2 separate regions of the Homo sapiens genome follow, and region 1 is linked to region 2. The links come from fine-mapping of genetic effects on gene expression. A gene starts in region 2. The other region holds a variant in brackets. All regions are shown on one strand. Distances are from middle to middle. Region 1 overlaps PTER (phosphotriesterase related). Region 2 holds the start of PTER (phosphotriesterase related).

Region 1 (12,837 bases), 75 kb before region 2:
TAATATTAAGATAAATAAAAATTATTCACAGAACAGTAAAACAGTTATAGGCAAATGGCTAAAACGGGCAGGACTCACTGTACCAGAATGGAGCTATTGAATCACCCTCACAAAAAGGCTTATGAACAGTCCCTCAGCAGGCAGCCATGAGACACCCCTTTATTTGCAAATTGGCTCTCTTCTGACTCAAAGGTCAGGTCTGGAAAATACAATCGGGCTGAAGAGATGATTTTTAGAGGTATCAATTAAAATGAAATGATTCCAATTTTATCAGCAAATGTGTAAAAATGCTCACATCTTTAAATATCTGGAAATTGCAATTGCATGAAAAAAGAAGGGATTAATACATTTAAATTAGTTTAAATGTTGATGTCTAGACTGCTGAGCCTGTGTATATTACACTGATTTGAAGAAAATAACACCATGTAGGTGTTCTATGTGCGTTTTGTTTTTAAAATTATTTCACTGTTTGGGGTGTAAAATCTTCCTTTGTATCACACTAGCACACACATTCCATGAGGATCAGGAAAAATAGTAAGGTAAAACAGCTGACCTTATAATGTATAAGTCTTTTCATTGGTAATATTAAGCTGCTACTTCTGCAAAAGGTATGCAACAGGTAATTCAGAAAAATAAATCTATAGTGGTAAACATTTTTTTTTAGTTCAGTGTGGACTATTTTGGAAAATGGTTACTACACTACTACAGTTAAGGAATTTTATCTCTAGATTAGAACTATTTTGTCAAGTCCAGTCTGCAGGCAGTTACAAATGAGAAATCTTTTAAAATCTTTTTATTAATTTTAAATAATACTTCACTCTTGCTTTTCAATTATATTCTGGTCTGATCACTTCTTAGAATGGCAGGTTCCCTCTCTGAGCTGACTTAATTTTTCATAAAACAGAAACTCAGAGATCCATGTCAGTGTAATGTTCTATGGATTAAGTGGATTTTGAGAAGCACAAAAATTAAACTAAAAATGCAGTTCCCTCTAAGAGAGAGAAATGCTTCTGGACTGTAACCATATGAGAGCCATTTTATTTATACTTTGTGTAGAATGTAAGATCACAGATGGAAACATCAAAGACCAGTAAATTAACCTGATGTGCCACTTAACCTTTTGTTTATGATTCCACAGAAGTACAATGAAAATGAAATTACGAGAACATCAGTAGCAATTAATTAAATTACAAATGTCACCATAAATATGATCTCTAATGATAGATCCTCACTAATAAGATAATGCTAAAACTATGAAACCTATTGCAGACACAGAAACATATCCCTAAAATGACCGCAGCTCTCATACTCCCCATGAAGCCATCAACCTAAATTTAATCCTACCATTTGTTGAAAGCCCATGACAGTGCATATTAAAGGTAAAAGTTCAACTCAAATAGCTTTACATTTGGAAAGAGGAAATCTCTTTAATGTTGATAATCCTTTTAGCAGAAAACATGAAGAAAAATTGCTATTTGAATACAATCACTCTAATGCCACTATAATAAATAAGCCACTCGAATGAAAACTAATACTGTTTCAGGATTAAAAGCATAAAATAATTAAAGACCAGTTGGTACTCTTAAAAATTTATTAGTTATGGCACCGATGCCCATGAAATATTTTTAAAAGGATGAGTGGTTTGTGGGTTGGTATTCGCTTATTAGAGAGATCAATGACATGTCAAATTCATAATCTTTTTAGGGTTAAAGAAATACGGACTAAACATAAAGCAGAATCTAAATAGTTATCTTGTAATAAGAAAAGATATTAGAGTAAATTCAGGTAGAAATCGGTTGATTGCGCTGAAGGAAGGATGGATCTTATTCCCAGACAGAATGCTGAAATCACTGTACATTTAGGAATCTGGAAACAGCCTCCAGGGTGAACACATTGCCTTCCTCAATAGTTTGATGGCTTGAAAGAATTGTTGAAGTCACTGAGCTGAATACTAGAGCTTGAAATTTCAAGTCCTGTTATATCTTTAGAGTAGGATCAGGTGAGCAGCCATACCAAAATCATGCCAGGTACACTGGAGTATGGCAATTATTTAATTGGGACAGTCTTACGGTACAGTATAGGTTAAAATCTTACAGAATTACATTCATTAAAAAGCAACCACACTGGCTTGATCCAACAAAGGTGGTAGAAACTGTGAGGGTAACCTTTCAGTCTGTGGAATCACTCTAATGCATTCGCAGGAATTTGTGGTTACGCCTACTGAATAAAAATGGTGACGTTCACTCGGTTTTGTGGTTACACCCTGGAGAATAAAAATGGCATTATATTTTTAAAAGGATTATTGTGTCTAAATCAAGTAATTTTAGTATGTCCTGTTTCTCCAATACCTTCATGTAGAAAACCATGTTAAAGCCCAGTAACCATAGAACATGTCCTAAATACCCAAAGCACTGAATAAAATATGTCTGGTTATTAGTAATAGCTGAGGAGTATATTATGGGTTGATAACTAATGTATTACTAATATAGCTCATGAATATTTTGTTTTTAATTTTTTTCACCATTAAAAATCCAAAGATGAGAAAAAAACACAAGTCATAATAGCAATATCCTTCTTGTAGATTTGTTTCCCTGGGAATTAATGGCTAGATGAAATTAATGAATCAAAGCATTCAACTCCTACAAACTCATGATTAATCTTTAGAAAATATTATGAAGTCAAACTGCGTCATTATTTAATGGTCAAAACGGACCACTTTACTAAATTGGCATATATATTGGAGTCAGTGCTTCCAAGCATAATTACATGGTATATTGCTTTCATTATATTAGTGCCTGTTAGTACAGCGTTAAGCAATTCTAAATCCTTTAAGCCATTTTCTCCTTTTGCTATGTGATACCCAGAAAGACACTTTAAAGATACTACTCAAATGACTTTACAAGTTCAGCAGTGTTAAAGAGTCTTCTTTTTTTAACATTTCAGCATTAACGTGAGACTATATCACAAGAAAATTTAATTGGAAAACTCATCATTTAAATTTTGAAAGAAATGCATGGAAATTCTTGACTTCTGTCTCATTTCTCTCATTTTGCCAAGTGATAAAATCCAGCATATTGTACCCCAAATCATGCATTATTACATAGTGCAGGTTTACAAAACCACTAAATCACTTGCTATGTTATTCAGGGAAATATCATTATAGTGGAATAGAAATGAAACAAGCCACAAAGTAGAAGATGTTTTACTGAAATAAATCAAATCTAAGTCTGCCTGTTGAAAGATTTTCCAAGGCAGAATCACAATATATCTAAATGAATATGAAGCCTAATTTGAGCTAAGGATCTGACAGAATGTCCACAATGCATGAGATGATAGGCAATTTGACTGTTTGTAAATGTCTATCAACTCACTAATGAGATCACAGGCTTACCATGGGCAGATTATAAGCAGCCTCTGCCCTCAAATCAAGCCACATATTTAGAATCTCCTAAGTGTAAGTGGATATTCAACGAAATCATTCAAAAATTCTTGAAACTTGAGAGGCCTCAGAGCATGAAAATTTAGTCCTTTCTTTAACTTTTAGATATGTTGAGGTTAAATTCTTGATTTAAATGCACATGTCATAGTTAAGTAATAAAAAGACACGATGGAAAAAAGAACTCTGAAAACTCAGGTGATATAATCAAAGATGTATAAATGAGCTAAGCTTCTGAAGCAGCCTGGTAAAGGGGGCTTTACATGAATTAGATTTGGAAAGCCCTAAATCAAAAGACTTTTTCTTTTTTTTTTTTTTCTTTGTAAGTAGTAGAGGAGTTGGTATTTTCCTGGGTATTTTTAGCTATTACATACCTCAATTTTCTAATAATTGTGGTGAACAGCTGAACTTAGACTTGAACTTCTGTACTCATAAACAGCTGATTAGAATATTGCTATCTGGCTTAAATTAAAATGCAAAAAATACTATTAGTTTCATTTCAAAATGTGATTGGGCATAGGGATCGAAGGAGTTAGAAAAACGAGTGATACAGGAAGATAATAAATTGTATGCATAGTTTAGAATGTGTAGTTAGATAAGACTGCCAGAATGGTCCCCACTGAAGCACTATTTTGTCCCTTTCTGTCCTCCTTCTCACTAACGTAGCGGAAACTGCCACAGCACTATCCTCATAAAGCTCTGAGGTCAACATGGACTTTGCTATGCTAAATTCTGTACTATGGCAGCAAGTCAGCTTGTGATGCTACATGAATGGCAAAAAAGAAAACTTGAGAATTCTCATTTACGCATCCTAATTCTTGTCTGTTTCACATAGGTGCGTGCTAGTGCAATTGCCCAAGATGCTGATCAGAATTACGACTATGCCAGTAACAGTGTGGTTCTTCATTTGGAGCCGGGAGATGAAGTCTATATCAAATTAGATGGCGGGAAAGCCCATGGAGGAAACAACAACAAATACAGCACGTTTTCTGGATTTATTATTTATGCTGACTGATAATGCAGAAACTAAGCTTATTATTCTGAGTTTGAACACTGGATTCGTATGGCTAACGTCAGTGAATCAAGGATCCCAGGGGATGCCAATGGCAGGGCACCTCAGTTGTGTATATGTGGGGAAATCAAATGCTACCTGACTCACATCTGTATCACTCAGAAACATTATGTAAAAAATATCAAAGCAAGATAAGCAGATGTGTGATCCACTACCGCCAAAGCAAATACTCCTTATCGTTAGTGTCCATGTGAATGAAGTCCTATATAGATCACAAATTTTTATAGACAAATCTAAGACATTGAATTATTTCTTCTATATATATGATACTTTGGTGTACTGTGATCTTGCTGCTTTTATCCATATGTCAGCTTTGGTTCTTGTGAGTTTACCTGCTTATTATGATACTTGGAGTCCATTCATAGTGTGGGGAAGAATGATTTTTGCCCTGCAGGAGAAGGTCTAATTGAAATAATGCTGCTTGTCCCCAAAGAAATTGTTTGCCTTGTACTCTTGTTAACCTTAGAGCTAGACCTGGGAATGATTCAACTTCAAGCCTTAACCTGGAATTTTCTGGATTTGAGGGAATTCCCAAGCCTATGATCTTTTTCACATTTTCTTTTTCTTATATGAATTTTCTTTTCTCTCTTTTCTGGTGATAGTCTTTAAAAATAGAGATTGACAGTGTATCATAGGATTACCCTCTAAGTGTGAAAATGTGTAATTATGTACGGTATTTAGAAAAAGCCCTTATGTGTCCATTTTGTCAACTGAATACATTTAGATTCACTGGGAAAGTCAGAGAAATTTATTCTTTAGTATCAAATCAAACCGAGGCTTTTGCCATCTTTGGAAGAAAAGATTATTCATAACCCAATGCACAAAGGTTTAATTTGAGCTGCTGCATACGTCACCAAGGGGACACTAGGTGAGGCCTTCAAATGATTACTACAAGTCTGTGGCCTGAGGTTATTTTAAAATTAACAATTTCGCATATAGCCTATATGACAACAGAGTGTTTATATTTTATACAAATATCTGCTAAACATGCACACATATACTCACACACACATATATATATTAGATGAAATGTTTTATTTATGTATAAAACATATACATATAAAACATTTATATATATGGCTTTATTCCACAGGGCACAGTGGCTGTATAGCCTCAAAATTTTAATATAAAAAAGTGTATGCATATATACACACACAAACATGCACAAATTATTTAACTTATTTTGGGTTAAAATATATTTTGAATGACAATATATGGAGTAGCAAAAACAGTTAAAATGACTTCTCTTTAAGAGTTATCCAGAAAATTAATTGTATTAGGTCAAAATGCCCTTTATTTCACAGGTCTGTAAGTTAAGGCTATGGTTGCTCTATTACCATATGCCAATCAATACTTTAACTGCATTCTGTGACAGACTGTTAATATGAGGACTGCAGACACCAAGTGGCTCTCCTTTGCAGTGTTTATGAATTACATGCATTTGAGCTATCAATTTTTTTTTCTTTTTTCTCAGGTGGAGTGAAGCTGACAGTACAGTAGATTTGGAGAGTAATACAAATCCTTTCTTTCTGGTTAGAACACACTGCCAAAAGCCATCTCTTTCATCTAAGGAAAAGATTAAAAATGCATGTTGATATCTCCTAACTATCACACAACTTCCACTATTACAATGAAAAATCTGTTCCCCTTTCATTGCCTCTGAAAACTCTTTGACGAGTAGATTTCAAAAACAGAGATTTTAAAAATTTGCTTGCTTTACTGGTGAAGGACATTTGCATTTTTTTTTTTTATTTATTTAAAGGAATTAGTTTGTTCTCCTGGCTCATTCCTCTTTGTTACTTTCTGTTCCAATACACAGAAAGCTTGATCATCTTTGATCAGCAGAAATATCTTTTATTTAGCAAAGCTCAACTTCCCAAGAGTTATGCATGGTGTGCCTATCTGAAGGTGGTGTTAGCTCTGTTGAAATGCCTGGGTCTGAGTAACTGTCATGATTTTTATGATTAAAAACAGACTCTTCATCAAGAATAATGACTAATTCTAATTGGTCTTTGTGATATGTAAGATAACTCATAAATGAATTGCAATGGATTTTATTTCGAATTAACTATATATTTATCAAAGAGGAACTGGCAGCAAGGGTTTGGAGAATATTTTTAGGTACCAAATAGCATAGTGAGGATTCAACCAAAAGATGAATTTATAAGCAGCAGTGCCCATCACCTAAGTGTTTTAACTAACAGGTTTTAAAAACATTTTATTTACACAAAATATCAGGGCTGGATACCTTTTAAAGAGGAGGC[T/C]CAAGTATCGGGCTGTCATTTCCAATAGATCTGACCTTTTCTTCAGATACATAAGCATTATTTTCTCTGTTTAGGTCCAAGGAAAAACAAAAGGTAAAGGAAATAAAGGGAATATACATAAGGCAAACATTTCTCTTTTTTTTTTTGCATTATATCTTACCAATTAATTAAATTGTGGCCTTTGTTATTATAAATGTAATGATTCATTAAACTATATTATGTAATATATTTTGACTTTTATGATTGAATTTTTATAATTCAGTAGTGTTATGTGTTCTTATACAAACTTTGCAAAACAGCAAAATGTATGGCAAAAATAGATACCGGAAAGCCAAAGATATCAAAATCATTTCAGTAGAAGAATATATAGATAGGTGGACAGTATAAAATTAACCTTTCAAAATATTTTTATCATTGTGAATTGGTAATTGTATTACAGTCAGTATCCTTTGGGGAAAAAAGTCTCAAAATTTAACTTCCCTTGTTGCAGAAGCTATTTTACAGTGCCATATTATTCATTAAGCATTAATTAAAGAACAGCAGGATAATTAGTAGGATCATCAATATTACAAGAAACATTAGATCGCTCAAGAAGGAAATAATTTAACTAGAAACACTTTAAATTTTCTCAAGTAGTGCAGCTGATAGATTAGGGAGAAAAACAACAACTCCGCTTAGGGGATATAGACTTTAAATCATTGTTTAGAAATAGGTACTTCTGTATTTATTTTGTTAAGTTAAAATAATAGGGCTCAATTAGGCTGAGTAACTCCCTAGAGGCACAGTTGTAATAGCTGGTCTCAGAGAAGGCAAACCCTCCTAGTTCTCATCAGAAGGAAATGATCTGTCATTAGTCCTAGGTAACTGATTAATATCTCACAGTGGACTGGAAATCGCTGAATGTTCTCTGCAAGTTTTATACTCAAGGTGTGAATTCATAAGCAACCATCCTATTTGAAAGTTAGCCATTGCTTAGGGTTCTCTATTAGAATCTTATCAAGCACATTCTCAGTTATGCCTCTCAGCAACATTTTAGGAACAACATTGGTGAGTATATGAGAATAGCCGTGACCTCCATATTTCATCAGCCGGGTTTTCGTATGTATGTCATGTGCTACCAGAATTCGATCTTCACAGCCCTCTTCCACCAGGAGACGCACCCTGTGAAAAATGTTAACTCATTAGATGTCATTTGTCTTTCATTTTCGCTTTTCAGGATGCTTTCAACTTTTTACTCATTAACCTATTGTGCTTGTCGTAAAGATACTGACTTCTACTGTGGCGTGTGTACTGAGAGACCTTTAATAAATATTGTGTGGTGACGATAAAAATATTGCTGCATCCTAGCAGGAACATATCCTTATTCCATGCATACAGAAATTTCTAACCTGTGACATTTATGACCATGCCTGGCAATACCGCATTAAAGATAGCTTCTAATAGGATGTGCCAGTTTGGATGAATGACCATTTTGGCATTTCACTAAATAACTTTGTTCTGGATTTGTATTCAGCAATCCTCTCTCAAATGCCTCTCCCTGTGGGCCCATTTTTCAGATCTCATTCTTGCTCTCTCCTTTTATCTGGCCAAAAAATATCAAGGACTGTTTGCGATTAAAATAGGGAAACAAAAGGAATCTCACTACAAGTAAAATATTCTGAGAGCAAAATCAGTTGGTCTGCAAGTGAGGGGCATTTGATAAGCTACAAAGCCACTGAAAAAAGGTTGGTCAGCATTTTAACCATTTGCCCCTTTGAAGTCTATGGCAATTTTGATTTAGTTGTAGCCTCTGAGCATTGGATTAAACTGACCAATACAAATATATTCTGTCTTCTTTCCATGTCAGCAAGATTGCTAAAATAATAAGCTGTTCCTTTAAATTTATAGTCAGTGGACTAAAGAACAGCTTCCTGACTATTCTCTAAAAATGAAATCCTCTTTGCTTTGTTAAATGCTGGAATCTGTAGTGTGAGTCACCTCCTGACAGCCACCATCTGTACGTGTCTGGACTCTGGGCAGTGTCTGTCGTGACTTCCATGGGTCTTTGATGGTAGAAGATGCCACTCACAGACAATGGCTCTTCTATGGGATTCTCTGAATAGTTTTTTTGGCGTCTAGATTCTAAAGTGGATCTAGACGGACGGACAGTGCCTTCCTCCAGAGGCTGATTATTTGAAAGGTATCTTTTTTGTTTCAAAAGCATTTCTTGGTGTCCTAGTACATGAGTCATATTTAATAACTACTACAGTGAGCAAAACGTGGGGTACTACACACACAAAAAAAACTCAAGCACAAAGCCCTGCCCTCTGAGAACACATATTTTAAAATAAATTATAATGGAAGAATAGACTTTGTATCTGCAGGTCAAAGGAATGCAAGCACTAGCAGAGAAGAACCATGCCTGTCCTATAAGTGCATGTAATGACTTTTGTGCCACTATGATTTTTTGCCTCATTGAAATTTGTATACTATCCTGAAGTTCTGATCTGCAGTTACTTTTGGAACACACTCAGTTTAGGGGAATTATCTAAGATAAGTTATATTATCACATAAAAAGACAAAGATTTGACAGAATGCACACACAATACTGAAGCTTAGGGTGACAAACCTTGATCCACAACTGCAAAGAAGTATCACGGTATAGGAGGTTTTAGGAAACACTTTCTCCCTGATATTTTCTGGGCATTTTCCAAAATTTTTGCCTATGTTTCTTATCTGATAAATATAATTTCTCACACTATAAAGGCAGATCATGTGGATAAACAAATTCCTTTAAGATGTCCTTTGTCAGACCTTGAAACACAATGTTATCAAATCATGAAGTAGAATGAAAGAGTATAGAGGACAAGATACTCATACTTAAAACCGGGAATCCTTAGAACCCATTAAGTCAAGAATCTGGAGACTACTTATGAGAAAGATAACGTTATGGCTCTGGACACACAATCATATCCTGACTATGAAGAAAACCTGCCCCGTCCTGCTTACACTAAAAGATCATCTCTCCTGTTGTGCCATTATATGGAAGAACAGGAGTTACAGAGATGCTGCCAGAAAAGGGGGAGCCACTACAGACGAGAAGACAAAAAATCACGGTAATTATAGAAATACAAATGAGTTAGTGTTTGCAAACAAATATTAGAGAGAGACTACAAAGTGTGAAAAGGCAGAGATATAATAAGATTTGAGAAATGGAGCAGAAGATTGAAAACAGGTGTTAGACACAGAATTTCTGGTGCTGAACACCAGAGGTAGGCAGAAGCGTGCTTCTGTGTTCATGCACTTCAAGGTTTAAGACTACGATGGCTCAGAAAAGGACCCTGTGGTCCTTTCATGCATGATGAAAATCAAGTGTGCAAGACAGTGGGTACTGGAGCACACGCAACCCAAAAGGGCATTCAGTGCTTAACATGGGCTGTCCTTGGGTCAAGCGAGAATGCATGGTTTAATTTAAGGAAGATTAAGCACACACACATACACGTACGTATGGAATAGCACACAGGTATTTTATATATATATACACAGATTTATATTATAATAATTTTTATTATTTCCATACATCCAGAATAGCTATATTTAGCACAGTAAAGGGTAAACAAATGGCTAAAAGGAGCTAAGAAGGAATGCTGGGGGAGCCATCGGTCATCTGACCCTTCTATCTCCTTCACAGATGCCCCTTTACGGATCTTCTTTCTCTTGTTCTAGAAGGTCTGGGAGCCTCATGCGAGACACAGGTGTGCAAAAGATGCACCTCACTACCACAAAGGGGCTTCGGAAAAGGAAGCCGATCCAGAGTGCAAAGTTCCCATTTCCAAGATGATTTAGAAAACATGTGTTGAGGCCGGGCGCGGTGGCTCACACATGTAATCCCAGCACTTTAGGAGGCCGAGGCGGGCGGATCACGAGGTCAGGAGATCAAGACCATCCTGGCTAACACGGTGAAACCCCGTCTCTACTAAAAATACAAAAAATTAGCCGGGCGTGGTGGCGGGTGCCTGTAGTCCCAGCTACTCGGGAGGCTGAGGTAGGAGAATGGCGTGAACCTGGGAGGCAGAGCTTGCAGTGAGGTGAGATTGCGCCACTGCGCTCCTGCCTGGGCGACAGAGCAAGTCTCCATCTCAAAAAAAAAAAAAAAAGAAAAAGAAAAAAAGAAAAAAGAAATAAAACATATGTTGAGGGCATTGATCAGGAAATCATGTTTTTGAGATTGTGAAAGATGAGAATGACTGAATGCACTGCACTATTTTAAATTCCAGATGCCCTTAGGCAAGGAATAGTCTCCTCTGAGTATAAACTAACTACTAGGGCTTTAGGGGAACAGGTTCACCTGTATTGAATCGGGTTCCTGGGCAAGTAAATTAAAATAATAAAACAAAAATAAACAAAGAAACAATACATCTACTTGTCAAATAACTGATCTGAGTATTAAAAGACAGAACTTCATTGGTCAAGACAGGTGAAGTCATTTGCTCATGTAGAGTTGAGAGTTGCCATCTTACTTAACTAATGCAACACTGATTAACTAGCTTTCCCTAATGATACTAAACTTGAAGCATAGTACTATTAATGAGGTGATCAAGGCAGAATGCCAGTACTTGGAGACAGCAGAAGGCATACAGACGTAAATGTGACTTCCCAGGGAAAGATCCTCAGGATGTCCCAACTATGACCACTGGCTCAAGATCTTCCCCTCAACCCAGTGTGCCTTATTCAACTAGCAATACTTGAATCTCATGGTTCCTGGACATCACTTCTCAATTCCAGCTTTGCTACTTCCACGGCAACCACTTTTCTGTTCTCATAATTATATTCTAGTTCTTGTTATCATAGGGAACTACTGCTCCCCCTCTGAAATCTCCATCTTCAGTTTCCCACTCCGATCATGTTACATTTTTCTACTTTTTCCACTCACTTCTTCTACTGTGTATATATATACACACACACATATATATATACACATACACATACAGTATATATATTTGAACATATATATATATATATATATGCTCCACCCACTTCATTAAAGCCTGCAGTCCACTTATTTGCCCTGCTATGCTTTTCCTGTCTATCTGACCATTCCTCTCTATGCTTTCTTCCCTCCAACTTGGATCCCATGACCCTCATCTCAACTCCTCCATTGTTATCCATCTCTTTCAGATAGAATCCCAACCCTCAATCTCTTGAACTGTTCCCATTTTCTGCTTGTACGCACACAACTTCTCTGGTTCCACTACCAAAACGCAAAACAGTTTTGCTTTGGAAAATAATCACCAAATCGTGTGCATTGGTGCCAATACACAGGCATGCAATCATGATTTCTAGACTCAACTAGGTCTCGCACATAACACATCCATGTCAAGATCTCTCTCATTGACCTGACAGCCATTCCTAGCCTTTCTCCTGCTCTACACAGTGCTGCCCTAAATCCACTCTTTTTTTCTCAGGAGATAACCATGTCCACCTCACAGAGACACTAGAGGACATGTGGCCATGTGTCCTCAGTCTCCTGTTTCCCTCACTAAGACTTCTGTTTGCATTCACCCCATCGCTGTGTCATGCCCTCTCATTTCCATGGAGAAAGCATCCTTTCAACCGACTTTCTATTTGTTCCCCAGATTCCATCTATTTGTTGCCTTAGGAACCTTGCTCTATATTTCTTATCTATCCAGAGTTTTTAAAGTCAACATCTATTGAACACTTCCATATTCTGCACCAGACACTCAGACAAAAACTTGGAAAACATTATTTCATGTCAATTCTATAGTAACCCTGTGGAATGGGCACCACTTCCCTGGACTCATTCTCTCTGGCTCTGTCTCTGCTTTTGCTCTTAAGTCACATAAACATTGCTCAACTCTTACTAGAAGCTTCCCTTGATCCTTTATTGACTTGTAACTCCAGACCCATCTCCTTGCTTCCCTCCACTGCCACGCTTCTTGAAAGAGTCACCTCAACATCCTCTCTCCTCTTCCTCACGGCCCACCCATTTCTCAAGCCTTTTCCACTGAGATTGCACTCTGTTTATAAAATGTGAGCCTCCTAATTGTGAAATCCAATGGATGCTT
Region 2 (12,837 bases):
CTGTAGGTCCTCTGTCCAAAAAAAAAAAACCAGGCGTGGTATTGAGGTATTGAGCACCTGTAATCCAGCTACTCAGGAGGATCGCTTTAGCCCAGAAGCTCAAGTGAGCTATGATCACCACCACACTCCGGCCTGGGTGACAGAGCAAGACACCGTCTCAAAAAAAAGAAAAGAGGCCGGGTGCGGTGGTTCATGCCTGTAATCCCAGCACTTTGGGAGGCCGAGGCGGGTAGATCACGAGTCAAGAGATTGAGACCATCCCGGCCAACATGCTGAAAATATACTAAAAATATAAAAGTTAGCTGGGCATGGTGGCACGTGCCTATAGTTCCAGCTACTCGGGAGGCTGAGGCAGGAGAATCGCTTGAATTCGGGAGGCAGAGGTTGCAGTCAGCCGAGATCGCGCCAATGCACTCCAGCATGGCAACAGAGCGAGACTCCATCTCAAAAAAAAAAAAAAAAGAAAAAGTTTTTAGCTTCCTAGGCTCACATCTTTTCTCACAGACCTTTCTGTTTTCAGTTGATAGTATCGTGATAATTGTAAGACACAACATATTTAAGCAAGATGAGCACAAGATACCACTTTATAGAAAGAGCAGATAGGACCACAGCATACTCTAGCGATCCTCTGGCCCTTTTTGATGGTACACGTAAGTACATGGACTCATCATAGTAAGTTTCTGATTCGGAGAGGAAATTTTTGGTAAAAATATGTGCGAGTTGTTACAGCAAATATTTGGATGTTTGTCATTCAGACTGCAAGGTACGCTTGATTATGTACATTTTTTTCTTAACTGCTTGATGAACTCTATCCAAGTCATTTAATAATGTTGCTTCCCTTTTTACCTAATTACATAAATGTTTAAAGTCACGAGCATTAAGCTCTCCTCCAAGTAATGTTAGTTAAAAAGAAGTTCCTGAACTGAGGAGATTCTCCAAAGATGTGTAGTCATCACTTGGAAGGTCAAATTTAACAATCAAAGAAAATAACTCCAAAAACAGTAGCTTCCAAACAGACCATTACTATTGCAGTGGAGCATTTTGGGCTCAGTTGTATCTCCCTGCAAAATTTGTCTGTTGCAGCCCGAACCCTCAGCACCTTAGGATGTGGTTGTATTTGCAGATAGTCTTTACAGAAGTAATTAAGTTAAAAGGGGGTTGTTAGGGTAGGTCTCAATCCAATAGGACTGGTGTCCCTATAAAAGATCAATACCCAGACATGCATAAAAGGGAAGACGGCCATCCACAAGCCAAAGAGAGAGACCTCAGAAGAGGCCAACACTGCTGACACCTTGATCTGGGACTTCCAGCTGCCAGAGCTGTGAGAAAATAAATGTCTGTTGTTAAAGCCACCCAGTTTGTGGTATTTTGTGATGGCAGCCCTAGGAAGACAAACATAGTGAGTAATCAAGGTCATCTAATCTAAGCTACAGAAATGGCCCTTAATTACACCTGGGGGCTCTACATTTTATTTCATCTTATTTTTATTGTTTTTGAGACAGAGTATCACTCTGTCACCCAGGCTGGTATGCAGTGGCACAATCTTGGCTCACTGCAACCTTCGCCTCCCGGGTTCAGGCGATTCTCCTGCCTCAACCTCCTGAGTAGCTGGACTTACAGACGTATGCCTGGCTAATTTTTGTATTTTTAGTAGAGATGGGGTTTCGCCATGTTGGCCAGGCTGGTATCGAACTCTTGACCTCAAGTGGTCCGCCTGCCTTGGTCTCCCAAAGTGCTAGGATTACAGGCATGAGACACCACGCCTGGCCTGCAGGCTCTGAATTTATAAAGTGAGAAGAAAATCTGTCAAAAGAGCTGGCCAGGCACATGCAAGTCAACCTAATTCTTATTTACTTATTTAATAGAGATGGGAGTCTCACTGTTGCCCAGGCTGGTCTTGAACTCCTGAGCTCAAGCAATCCTCCCGCCTTGGCCTCCCAAAGTGCCGGGATTACAGCATGAGCCACCGTGCATGGCCAACCTAACACTTTTAAACAAATTCTGATGGCAATCAGATGACAGCTCAGGGCATGGGCTCTGACCAAATAAATCTTTATTTCAATTTCTCAATTACATGGTCGGGCTTTATCTGTCCTCCAAACTGTTAGAGAGCAAGACTGATAACATCTAACCTTTCAGATATGCAAGAATGTAGGAGATGAGACATGTCGAATTGTCAAGGCATAAACATGAGATAACTTTGAGAATTTATGAAAATTTAAAAAATGTTTTTAAAAATCAACAAACAAATAATTTGGAAAATAGTAAGCCACATCAGGAAAGAAATTTTGTGGGTACACAGTAACACCAAGGATTTTGTGGTCGCAATGGGCTTTCAGTTACATAAAAGAGCACGAAATTAACAATATTTACCAATATTCTCTTCAAAGTGCTCTTCACACACCAAATAATTACCCAATTAAGCCACTGCAAGATAAGTTGCTATTACTCTGGATTTAGTAAAAAGAACTAATAATTACTCTTTTAACAGTTTCTGTGAAGAAAGAACTCAGTGTTTACCATACACAAGTGAGCACATCCCACCCGTTTAATAAGTAGGGAACAGGAAAAAAAAAAAGGCTGATTATGTAAGTGAATTCAGTGGAGGACACAGATGACTAAGAACCACAACCTGTGAAAACAGAGAATTTAATATGTAAAGCAGAGACCACCATTGGCAAAAGGCTATTTATGAATACTGCCAATACTTAGCATTGCCAGCTGACAATAGAAGATCTTCGGTCATGCCCCGAACAACATAATTCATCACACTAGTGCTTGGGCCAGTCACGTCCAAGCAATTTATCATCATCATATCACTCGCCTGACTATAATAAGGGGAGAACTTTGATTGTTAACCTCTAGGGAGACTGGATTTATAGCCAGTGTCCCCTAAGAATGCAGCACAGCTCTGTCCAAAGCACAATGCTCCCGGCTTGCCTTCTGTTTAACTCAGAATAAAAGAGTGAACACACTGCCCCTAGGACATTAACAGCAAAACCTAAGTCTGATACTCTTAGATCCGAAATCAGATAGCCAGGAAATCATATTTAAAATACTCTTTGAAGCTGCCTGAAAAAAAACGTATTAGTCAATGGTAAGTACGGATGATTCATTTCAAATGTCCTTCAGTGACAAAATAATTTCTGAAATGTATCCACTGATAACTGCATTTGGGAAGAATCATCTTTTCACAACTCACCCACGAACATTCCTCTGTATTGGAAAACTTGGAAGTGCACTGAAAATTGTTAAAAATATATAAATTGTGTTTTTCAAAGTAAAAATGAAAGCCTTGATTCTTATCCCTTCCAGGCATACAGCCTTTACCTATTTTACACTTTAACATGGTCTGCCCTTACAGAATGCAATTAAACATCTAAACGCCATTTTTGCCACTCTTGATTAAAATCACAAAGCAGACTGGAGCATGATGGGAACAGCACACCTGCCATCTCCCACACAGTAAAAGGAGCATGATTCATAGGACAAGCCTCTTTCAGGGCCCTCCCCACAGCTCCCAAGGTATCTGGTAAACCAGAGCCAGAAATCCCCGCATACATGCAGCTTATCTGATAATATTCATTACGCAGGCTTGACCAGGCTAGGCCACAGTAACACTCAAATCCCCGAATCTCAGGGTCTGACCACAACAAAAGTTTATTTCTAGCTCATCGAATACGTCTAACACAGGAAGGCAGGGGGCTCCGCTCACTGTCCTCTATGACCCAGGCTGAGACCACTGCCTCTATCTGGATGGTCACTGCGGCAGAGGGAAAGTGATTGTGACAAATCTTTCACTGGCTTTTAACACAGTTTTACCTGGAAGTGACACAGGTCACTCCACTTGCGTTTCGTTAGCCAAACAAGTCACGTGGACATACCTGCCTGGAAGGAGACAGGGAAATGGCTAACATTCACAGCTCTCACGCTGAGCAGGCACAGAGGTATTTGTACTCAGGTGGTTATTGTTTTGACAAAATAGGTACAACCACAGAGCCAGTTTATGCCAAATGGAACCAGATATTTTATTTTTCTTATTCTTTTTTCTTTTTCTTTTTTTTAAGAGATGATGTCTATGAATGAGAAGCCTTTTGTTATAAAAGTGTTATTAAGGGCCGGGCGTGGTGGCTCATGCCGGGAGGCTGAGGCAGGTGGATCACCTGAGGTCAGGAGTTCAAGAGCAGCCTGATCAACATGATGAAACCCCGTCTCTACCAAAAATACAAAAAAATTAGCTGGGCGTGGTGGTGCATGCCTATATTTCCAGCTAGTTGGGAGGCTGATGCAGGAGAATCACTTAAACCTGGGAGGCAGAGGTTGCAGTGAGTCAAGATAGGGCCACTGCACTCCAGTCTGGGCAATAGAGTGAGACCCTGCCACAAAAAAAAAAAAAAAATCTTGTTAGGAAAACCTGGACCACTGAAAATACACTAGAAACAACAGCTAAAGAAAACAGAACAAAGCCACATTTGATGTATGAAAATATATTCAACAACTACCTCAGTCAAGTTCATAGGGATACTGAGCAGACTCGAGCTTGATCAGAAATTCTCAATATTATTACTATATGGCTTACTAGGGCATTTAATAGATTTGAAGTTGGCTGGCTGCCGTGGCTCACGCCTGTAATCTCAACAGTTTGGGAGGCCGAGGTGGGAAGATCACTTGAGCCCAGGAGTTTAAGACCAGCCTGGGCAACAAAACAAGACCCCCCATCTCTACAAAAATAAATAAACTAATAAATATTTTAAAAAGAAGATATTTAAGGATAAACATTCCTCCTGTATGAATGGGTCCTGTATGTATGTATGTCCTGTATGAACACTTTGCACATGGAAGCAAAGGTGGACATTTACCAAGCTCCTCTCATGCTATACAGTTCATCATTTTGTCTTTAAGCTTAAAACTGAGACAATCTCTAAAATTCTTGCATCAGGGCTGCTTACTCAACTTAAAATAGTCACAGGGATCCTATGGCCAAGTCCTGGCACTGAGTACACGGTCATGTACTTCTCCAGATTCTAAATGATCTATTTTTGTGTTCTCTTACTCTCTGCTTCTATTTGGCTCAAAATTTACTGACACTTCAAAGGATATTAAATTGCATTTTTTTTCAGAAATGCTTCTCACTTTAGCCATATTGAAGGTATTTTCTGTCCTTCACAGGGAAGGGGAAATTTGCCCAGTGAAACTGATCTTTCCCTAAGTCCCTCCAGAAAAGCCACTGTCCTGATTTTCCTCCTGTCTCACTAGCCACCTTCTGGCTGGATACTCCGCTACTGACCTCCAAAATACACATTTATTGATCTTTGATTGAATAAACAGACCCTTCCTGACTACCTTGTAATTTCAGCAGCAAATATGACCCAAAACTGGAAGACCCTCTCAATCTATTCTGGTTTGAGGGCTGCCCAATTAAAAAGGAAAAAAACTGGCCCAAAATATCATTAAATGGTAAAATCAGGATCTTATCCTCATAAATCCATAGATTATTACATCCACTAGCGACCTAGAGACCACTTACCTTTTTTTTTTTTTTTTTTGAGACAGAGTCTTGCTCTGACACCCAGGCTGGAGTGCAGTGGTGTGATCTCAGCTCACAGCCGCCTCTGCCTCCCAGGTTCAAGCAATTCTCGTGCCTCAGCCTCTCCAGTAGCTGGGATTACAGGCATGCCCACCACCATGCCCAGCTAATTTTTTGAAGAAAAGAGGTTTCACATGTTGGCCAGGCTGGTCTCGAACTCCTGGCCTCAAGTGATCCACCTGCCTCAGCCTCCCAAAGTGCCGGGATTACAGGTGTGAGCCACCGCGCCTGGCCTGAGACCACTCACCTTAATGTGTCTAGAAAACAGGCAGGCCAGGCGCAGTGGCTCACGCCTGTAATCCTAGCACTTTGGGAGGCCGAGGCAGCCAGATCATTTGAGCCCAGGAGTTTGACACCAACCTGGACAAAATGGCAAAACCCCGTCTCTACCAAAAATACAAAAAAAAAAACAAAAAACAGAAAATAAAAACTAGCCGGGCGTGGTGGTGTGCACCTGTGGGAGACTGAGCTGGGAGGATCACTTGAACGGGGGAAGTGAAGGTTGCAGTGAGCTGTGATAGCACCACTGCACTCCAGCTTTGGTGAAATAATGAGACCTAGTCTTAAAAAGCAAGAGGCCGGGCGCGGTGGCTTACGCCTGTAATCCCAGCACTTTAGGAGGCCGAGGTGGGTGAATCACAAGGTCAGGAGTTCGAGATCAGCCTGGCCAGTATGGTGAAACCCCGTCTCTACTAAAAATACAAAAATTAGCTGTGTGTGGTGGAGCGCGCCTGTAGTCCCAGCCACTCAGAAGGCTGAGGCAAGAGAATCGCTTGATCCCGGGAGGCGGAGGTTGCAGTGAGCCGAGATCGCACCACTGCACTCCAGCCTGGGCAAGGGCGAGACTCTGTCTTTAAAAAAAGCAAAAGAAAACCAACTTGTAGAAAGTCACTGAGCTGGAACCAGAACTAGAATAGGGCTCTACTCTTTCTGGGTCCAAAGTTCTTTAAATCAGCAACCCCTCTTACTGCCTATGTAAGGGTATACCTTTAGTTCCTGTTGACTTGGGATGTACAAAGAATGAGGTAGTCTAAGAGAGTAACAGCACACTGGCTGTGGAGTCAGAAAGACTCCACCTCTAAACTTTGTTTCCATCTCTAAACTTTCCAGCAGTGTGGCCTAATTTTTCTGTACCTTAGCTTTGTCGTTATCACTAGAATCCTTCACAGGGCTGCAGAGTGGATTAAGCAAGAGTGCACAGGACTCAGACATATGACCGCTGGTAATTGGCTTTTATAAACTGTCAAAAAATATAGACCTGTAATGCCAGCACTTTGGGAGGCCGAGGCAGCAGACTGATTGAGCCCAGGAGTTCGAAACCAGCCTGGGCAACATGGCGAGACACTCTCTACAAAAAATACAAAAATAACCGGACATGGTGGCACGTGCCTGTAGTCGCAGCTACTCAGGAAGCTCAGGAGGCTGAGGCAGGAAGTTCGCTTGAGCTCAGGAGGTCGAGGCTGCAGTGAGCTGTGATCGCGCCAAATGCACTCTAGCCTGGGAAGCAGAGCCAGACCCTGAATCTAAAAAAAAAAAAAAAAAAAAGCTTATTAAAGGAGGCTTAGCACAGCTACCCGATGACGCCCCCGGGCATTGCTGTCGAGCCACAGGGAGCTGGCGCCACACGGGACTGGCGCTCTTTGCAACGTCCCTCAAGCACTTAAGGAGAGGCGGCAGGGCCCAAGCGCAGCGGCTAGAAAATCCTTCCTTCCGGCAGGACCCTCGCGTGGAGCTCTGCAGCGAACCCTGGCCGCGCGGCCTCCGCCGTCGGGCCCCACTCTTCCTACTGGGCCCACAGTTCCGGCTCCTGCTCTGACTCCAAGAAGCCTTACCTCGGGTACAACGCGCTGCCTTCTCCCTGGGAACTTCCGGCAGGCCAACTTCCCTGGCCTTTTTAGTCTCCCCTGTGCCCTCCCACTTCGCCCTCTGGTTCTCTCCCCGCCCCTGGCCCGAGGTCACGCCCTCACCGAGTCCTAGGACACGCCCCGTGGGTCCTTGCCAAGCCCTACCTCTTCGTAGGACACGCCCTTCAAACCCTTGCCACGCCCCACCCTGGTCCGGGGCCGTTCCCCGCGTTTTTGCCTGGCCACACCCTCCTGCAGGCGCTGTCTGACTGTCGGTAGTTTGGCTGAATGAAAAAAATTCGGGGCTAGATCCCCAAACGGAAAGAAACTGTTGCATTTTCCCCAGATCCCAGTTCTCCATAGAACAGTCTGGAACAAGGGAGCATTCCGTAGCTCTTTTGGTTTTCCCCAAGAATAAATCGGAGGTGGTGCTCTGGCAATTTGATGTCACAGTGGGTTCTGGATCCTCATGCTGCATACGGAGAACTTTGGTTTTTGTGTTCCCACTTGTCACTGTTTCCTGCCCCGGTGCCGCGTTTCCTTCTCTTTAGAATTAGAGTGCCGTGCTAGAGCACTTGAACTGGCCCTGGTACTTGCTGTGACTGAAATAAACTTAGTATGTGTGAGTCTGTTGGCAAAACATGATGCTTGGAGCAGCTGCCACAGTAAAGAGTCATACCTTTAGGTATTGTAGGGGGCCAAGGGCAAACCTCTCCTTCGTCCTCTGAAAGTTTGCTGAAAATCAACTGACAAAAGACAGTTTCACAGTAGAAAAGGCATACAAATATACTAGATCGTAACTTTATGTGATCCGGGAGCCTTCAGAATGAAAACCCAAAGATGCAGGGGAAACGGTCCATTTTTTCGCTTAGGTTCAATAAAGTATGGACCGCCATGTATTCAGCTGGTGCAAAAGTAATTGCGGTTTTTAATGGCAAAAACCGCAATTACTTCTGCACCAACCTAAGAGATACTACGATGGCATAAAAAGGGTCTGAGCTAATGCCAATAGACTAAGTGAGCAAGCCCTGTCTGTTTAGATTCTTTTTGGCTTTTCTGTGCAGTGTTCCTTCCTTCTGGGTATAGAGCAGGATCCTTTCTGGAATGGGGGTCTTATGACCTACAGTCAAACAAAGCAGGGCAGAGAATTTCTTTACCGCCAGTTTTGACACAGAAAGGCAGGGGACACGCAGAGTCAAACTTTTAGGTTTTATGCTTGGCTTTGGGGATGAGGGGTTCTGGCTTCTGTGAATCACCTTGGGGAAGAGGGATTCCAGTTTCTAGAATGAGGGGCCAGAGGCAGGAGGACATGAGGTTAGAGAGAGCTGCTTCTAAGGCCTTCATTTTGGGGTATCATTTTCTGAACCCCAACCATATTACACTGTCATCAATTATTATTATTATTATTTTGAAATGGCTCTGTTGCCCAGGATGGATTTCAGTGGTGCAGTCATAGCTCACTGCAGCCTTGAACTCCTGGGCTCAAGGGATCCTCCTGCCTCAGCCTCCTGAGCAGCTGGGACTACAGGTGTGCACCACCACACTCAGCTAATATTTGTAATTTTTGTAGAGATGGAGGTCTCGCTATGATGCCCAGCCTGGTCTCAAACTCCTAAGCTCAAAGGATCCTCCCACCTCAGCCTCCCAAAGTGTTAGGACTACATGCATAAGCCACAGCACAAGGCCTAGTCAATTAATTTTATCCTGAATTCTGAGAAAAAAGAGAATAGGTATGCAGATGGGCAGAAGCTACAGATGTCATTTCAAAGGAAAGTAGAGTTTTAATAATAATATTAATAGATGATGTTTATCGGGGCCAACTCTACCAGGTTTTGTAATGGGTGTATGTTATTTTGTTTAAGATTTTGAGCAACCTGCATGTGGCAGGAGCTATTTCCCTCCAATTACAGACAAGAAAACAAACTTAGGCAAGCACCTTGTTCAAGGATAGGACTAGGGACCCAGATTAGTTGATATCAGTCACTACACTTGCCTTCTTAGTAAAGAATGGGGAATTTTTTTGGTTTGTTTGTTTGTTTGTTTTTGAGACAGAGTCTTGCTCTGTTGCCCAGGCTGGAGTGCAGTGGTGCAATCTCACCTCACTGCAGCCTCCACCTCCTGGTTTCAAGGGATTCTCCTGCCTCAGCCTCCTGAGTAGCTGGGATTACAGGCACGCCCCACCATGCTCAGCTAATTTTGTGTAATTTTAGTAGACATGAGGTTTTGCCATGCTGGCCAGGTTGGTCTCGAACTCCTGACCTCAACTGATCCACCTGCCTTGACCTCCCAAAGTGCTGGGATTACAGGCGTGAGCCACCGCACCAGGAGAGAATGGGGTGCTTTGATAGGAGATTAATAGAAATAAATTAATTCATTTAAATCAGAAAAAAAGGAGGAGAAAAGGATATACAGGTCTCGTTCTCTGTTTTTTGTTTTTTAAGGGTAAAAGTACAAGAAGTCATTTAGAAAAGGGGTTGGTTGGTAAGGGACAGTCAGGGAGAAGATACTGAGGAAAAAATTGGTTCTTAAGGAGGGTGGCTGGGTAAATCCTAGAAACAGAAAAGGGATAAAAATAGGGCCCAAGAGTAGGAAAGACAAGAATAACTGTAGGGGTTAAGAACTGCAGAGGCATGAGTGCTGGGACAGTTGGATATTAGTAGCAATGACGGGCTCACACTGAGATTCTGTAATGAGGAGATGGATCCAGGGAGGCTTCTGGAGTGATTTCAGTGCTGGCTCCCACTTTGTGTGTGCTACAAGCATGGAGCCATATAAATGTGTACCCGACAGTGGGTGGTAAGGAGAGGCTCGAAAGTCCATTATTTATAATGTTACGTATTTTAGTAGTCTATGCTGCTAGATGTTAAATGATACATGAGGTCCTTGTTAAAAAATGACTTCAGGCCAGGCGCAGTGGCTCACGCCTGTAGTCCCACCACTTTGGGAGGCCAAGGTGGGCAGATCACTTGAGGCCAGGAATTGGAGACCAGCCTGGCCAACATGGTAAAACCCCATCTCTACTAAAAATACAAAAATTAGCCGGGTGTGGTGGTGCATGCCCGTAGTCCCAGCCACTCAGGAGGCTGAGGCATGAGAATTGCTTGAACCTGGGAGGTGGAGATTGCAGTGAGCTGAGATCATGCCAGTGCACTTCAACCTAGTGACAGAGAGAGACCCTGTCTCAAAAAAAAAAAAAATTGAAAAGTAAACTTTAGTTTTTCTTTATGGAAGTTACTAAATTCTCCACTGCCCACAGTAAATCCACTGAGCAAGATTTGTGATGGATTTCAAATGCACGCTCTTATTTCTGTGGCTTTACTCCTTAAAAAGATACTAGTAAAGAGATTTTATTTCTTTTTTGAAAGAAGCAGCTACAAAGAAATTTCAAATTAATATGCAGGAGATTTATTTCAGGAACTTTCTCAAACTATTGCCTACAGGTGTGTTCAAAGAAAGGCAGAGGCCAGGTGTTGTGGCTCACGTCTGTAATCCCAACAATTTGGGAGGCCAGGGTAGCAGATCCCTTGAGGCCAGGAGTTTGAGACCAGCCTGGCCAACATGGTGAAAACCTATCTTCCCTAAAAAAACAAACAAACAAAAAAAACAGGCCAGGTGCAGTGGCTCATGCCTGTAATCCCAGCATTTTGGGAGGCCGAGACGGGTGCATCACAAGGTCAGGAGTTCCAGATCAGCCTGGCCAAGATGGTGAAACCCTGTCTCTACTAAAAAACATACACACACACACCCACACACACAAAACTAGCTAGGTGTGGTGGTGGGTGCCTGTAATCCCAGCTACTCGGGAGGCTAAGGCAGAGAATTGCTTAAACCCGGGAGGCAGAGGATGTATTGCGCCAAGATCACGCCACTGCACTCCAGGCTGGGCAACAGAGCGAAACTCCATCTCAAAAAACAAAACAAAACAAAACAAAAATTAGCCAAAGGTCATGCCGTGCACCTGTAGTCTCAGCTACTCAGGAGGCTGAGGCAGGAAAATAGATTAAACCTGGGAGGTGGAGATTGCAGTGAGCCGAGATCGTGCCACTGCACTCCAGCCTGGGAGGTACAGCGAGACTCCATCTCAAAAAGCAAAAACAAAAACAAACAAACACAAACAAACAAAGAACAGTGGAGAAAATCATGTAAATCCAATGCACAAGAATGGAAAACTTTTTAGCATATAGCACCTGTGTACATACTGTAATCCTATTTCACTAAGCACTGTTGTTAGTTAAACACTAAATGCTACTGAATCTTTTAGAAAGTAAAATAAACATTCTTCACTACCGGACTCAAAATCTACTAGCCCTGGGATAGGCAGACAAGAATGGGTGAAAAGGGTTCTTGAGGATGTTCTGCTGTTAAACATGATAATCTGGCATCAAGCTTGTGCCCAACTTTATTTTTCAGTCTTTCTTCCTAGAGAAGCTTAACTTGGAAATAATTTTTGAAACCAAGAATATCAATGTACTGTCGTATGTCTGTGATGAAGTAGCAAAGTTGAAAATCACATTATTAAGGAACCGAGTTTCCAAATCGATCTCTCAGTTAAAGGTTTAGTTCAAATGCACTCTCATTTCTACAGTACTTGCTTTTCCTTTTCATAGTATCTTTGAATTTTGACAGTACCTGTACCCGGGAACACTAAATTGGCAAAAAGAACGAAATCAAAAGCAAACATCCAAAGCCCCTGCTATTTGGGTTAAAATTCTAGAAAACACCCAGGTTTTCATCACCCTAGTTAGTTGTTTTAAATATTTACACAAAAGTAGTCTACAGAAACAATCTGGGGAGGGCAAAATAGAAAATAATCCAGATAATTATCAGATAAGCAGCAGGAAAAAAAAGCAGGACCTATGATGTCAATTCTATCAATGATGTTGCTGTTAGGTTTTAATTGTTAATTGGAAGCTGAAATTTACAGTGCTGCAGAGATTTTCTTGGTTTAATTTTGAGTCATGGTGTGATAAGCCATTCCTATCATTTATAGGACACCTATTAGATACTAATGTCACAAGAGAACTAGAACAGAACTTTGAACACACAGATCGTTTTCTATCAAATTCCTATTCTTTGTACCCCCCAGAAAATACAACTAAGTATTCAATGTATATTATTACTTCACTTAGAAGCAAAGGAAAAGTGAAATTTAAATCATTCTAGATCTTTTTTTTTTTTTTTTTGAGATGGAGTCTCTCTCTGTCGCCAGGCTGGAGGGCAGTATCGGCTCACTGCAACCTCCGCCTCCCGGGTTCAAGTGATTTTCCTGCTCAGCCTCCTGAGTAGCTGGGACTACAGGCATGCACCACCATGCCCAGCTAATTTTTGTATTTTTAGTAGAGACGGGGGTTTCACCATGTGGGCCAGGATGGTCTCGATCTCTTGACCTCATGATCCGCCTGCCTC

The links.
Region 1: its variant is fine-mapped to the expression of PTER in whole blood (INTERVAL, PIP 0.96).

Annotation. Positions count from the first base shown.
Region 1 is chr10:16,506,142-16,518,978 of GRCh38, reverse strand. PTER (phosphotriesterase related) reads right to left here. Exons shown (of 5, transcript NM_001261836.2): 5 at 5,234-7,933. The coding sequence ends at 7,723. It overlaps C1QL3 (complement C1q like 3), which reads left to right. Exons shown (of 2, transcript NM_001010908.2): 2 at 4,272-5,245. The coding sequence ends at 4,451. Among named protein-coding and RNA genes, the nearest start is that of C1QL3, 9.3 kb to the left of the region's middle. The variant T/C (reference allele first, on the strand shown) is at 6,773.
Region 2 is chr10:16,431,630-16,444,466 of GRCh38, reverse strand. It overlaps PTER (phosphotriesterase related), which reads right to left and starts at 7,457. Exons shown (of 5, transcript NM_001261836.2): 1 at 7,420-7,457. RefSeq lists enhancers at 6,863-6,912, 6,933-7,112 and a silencer at 7,533-7,582.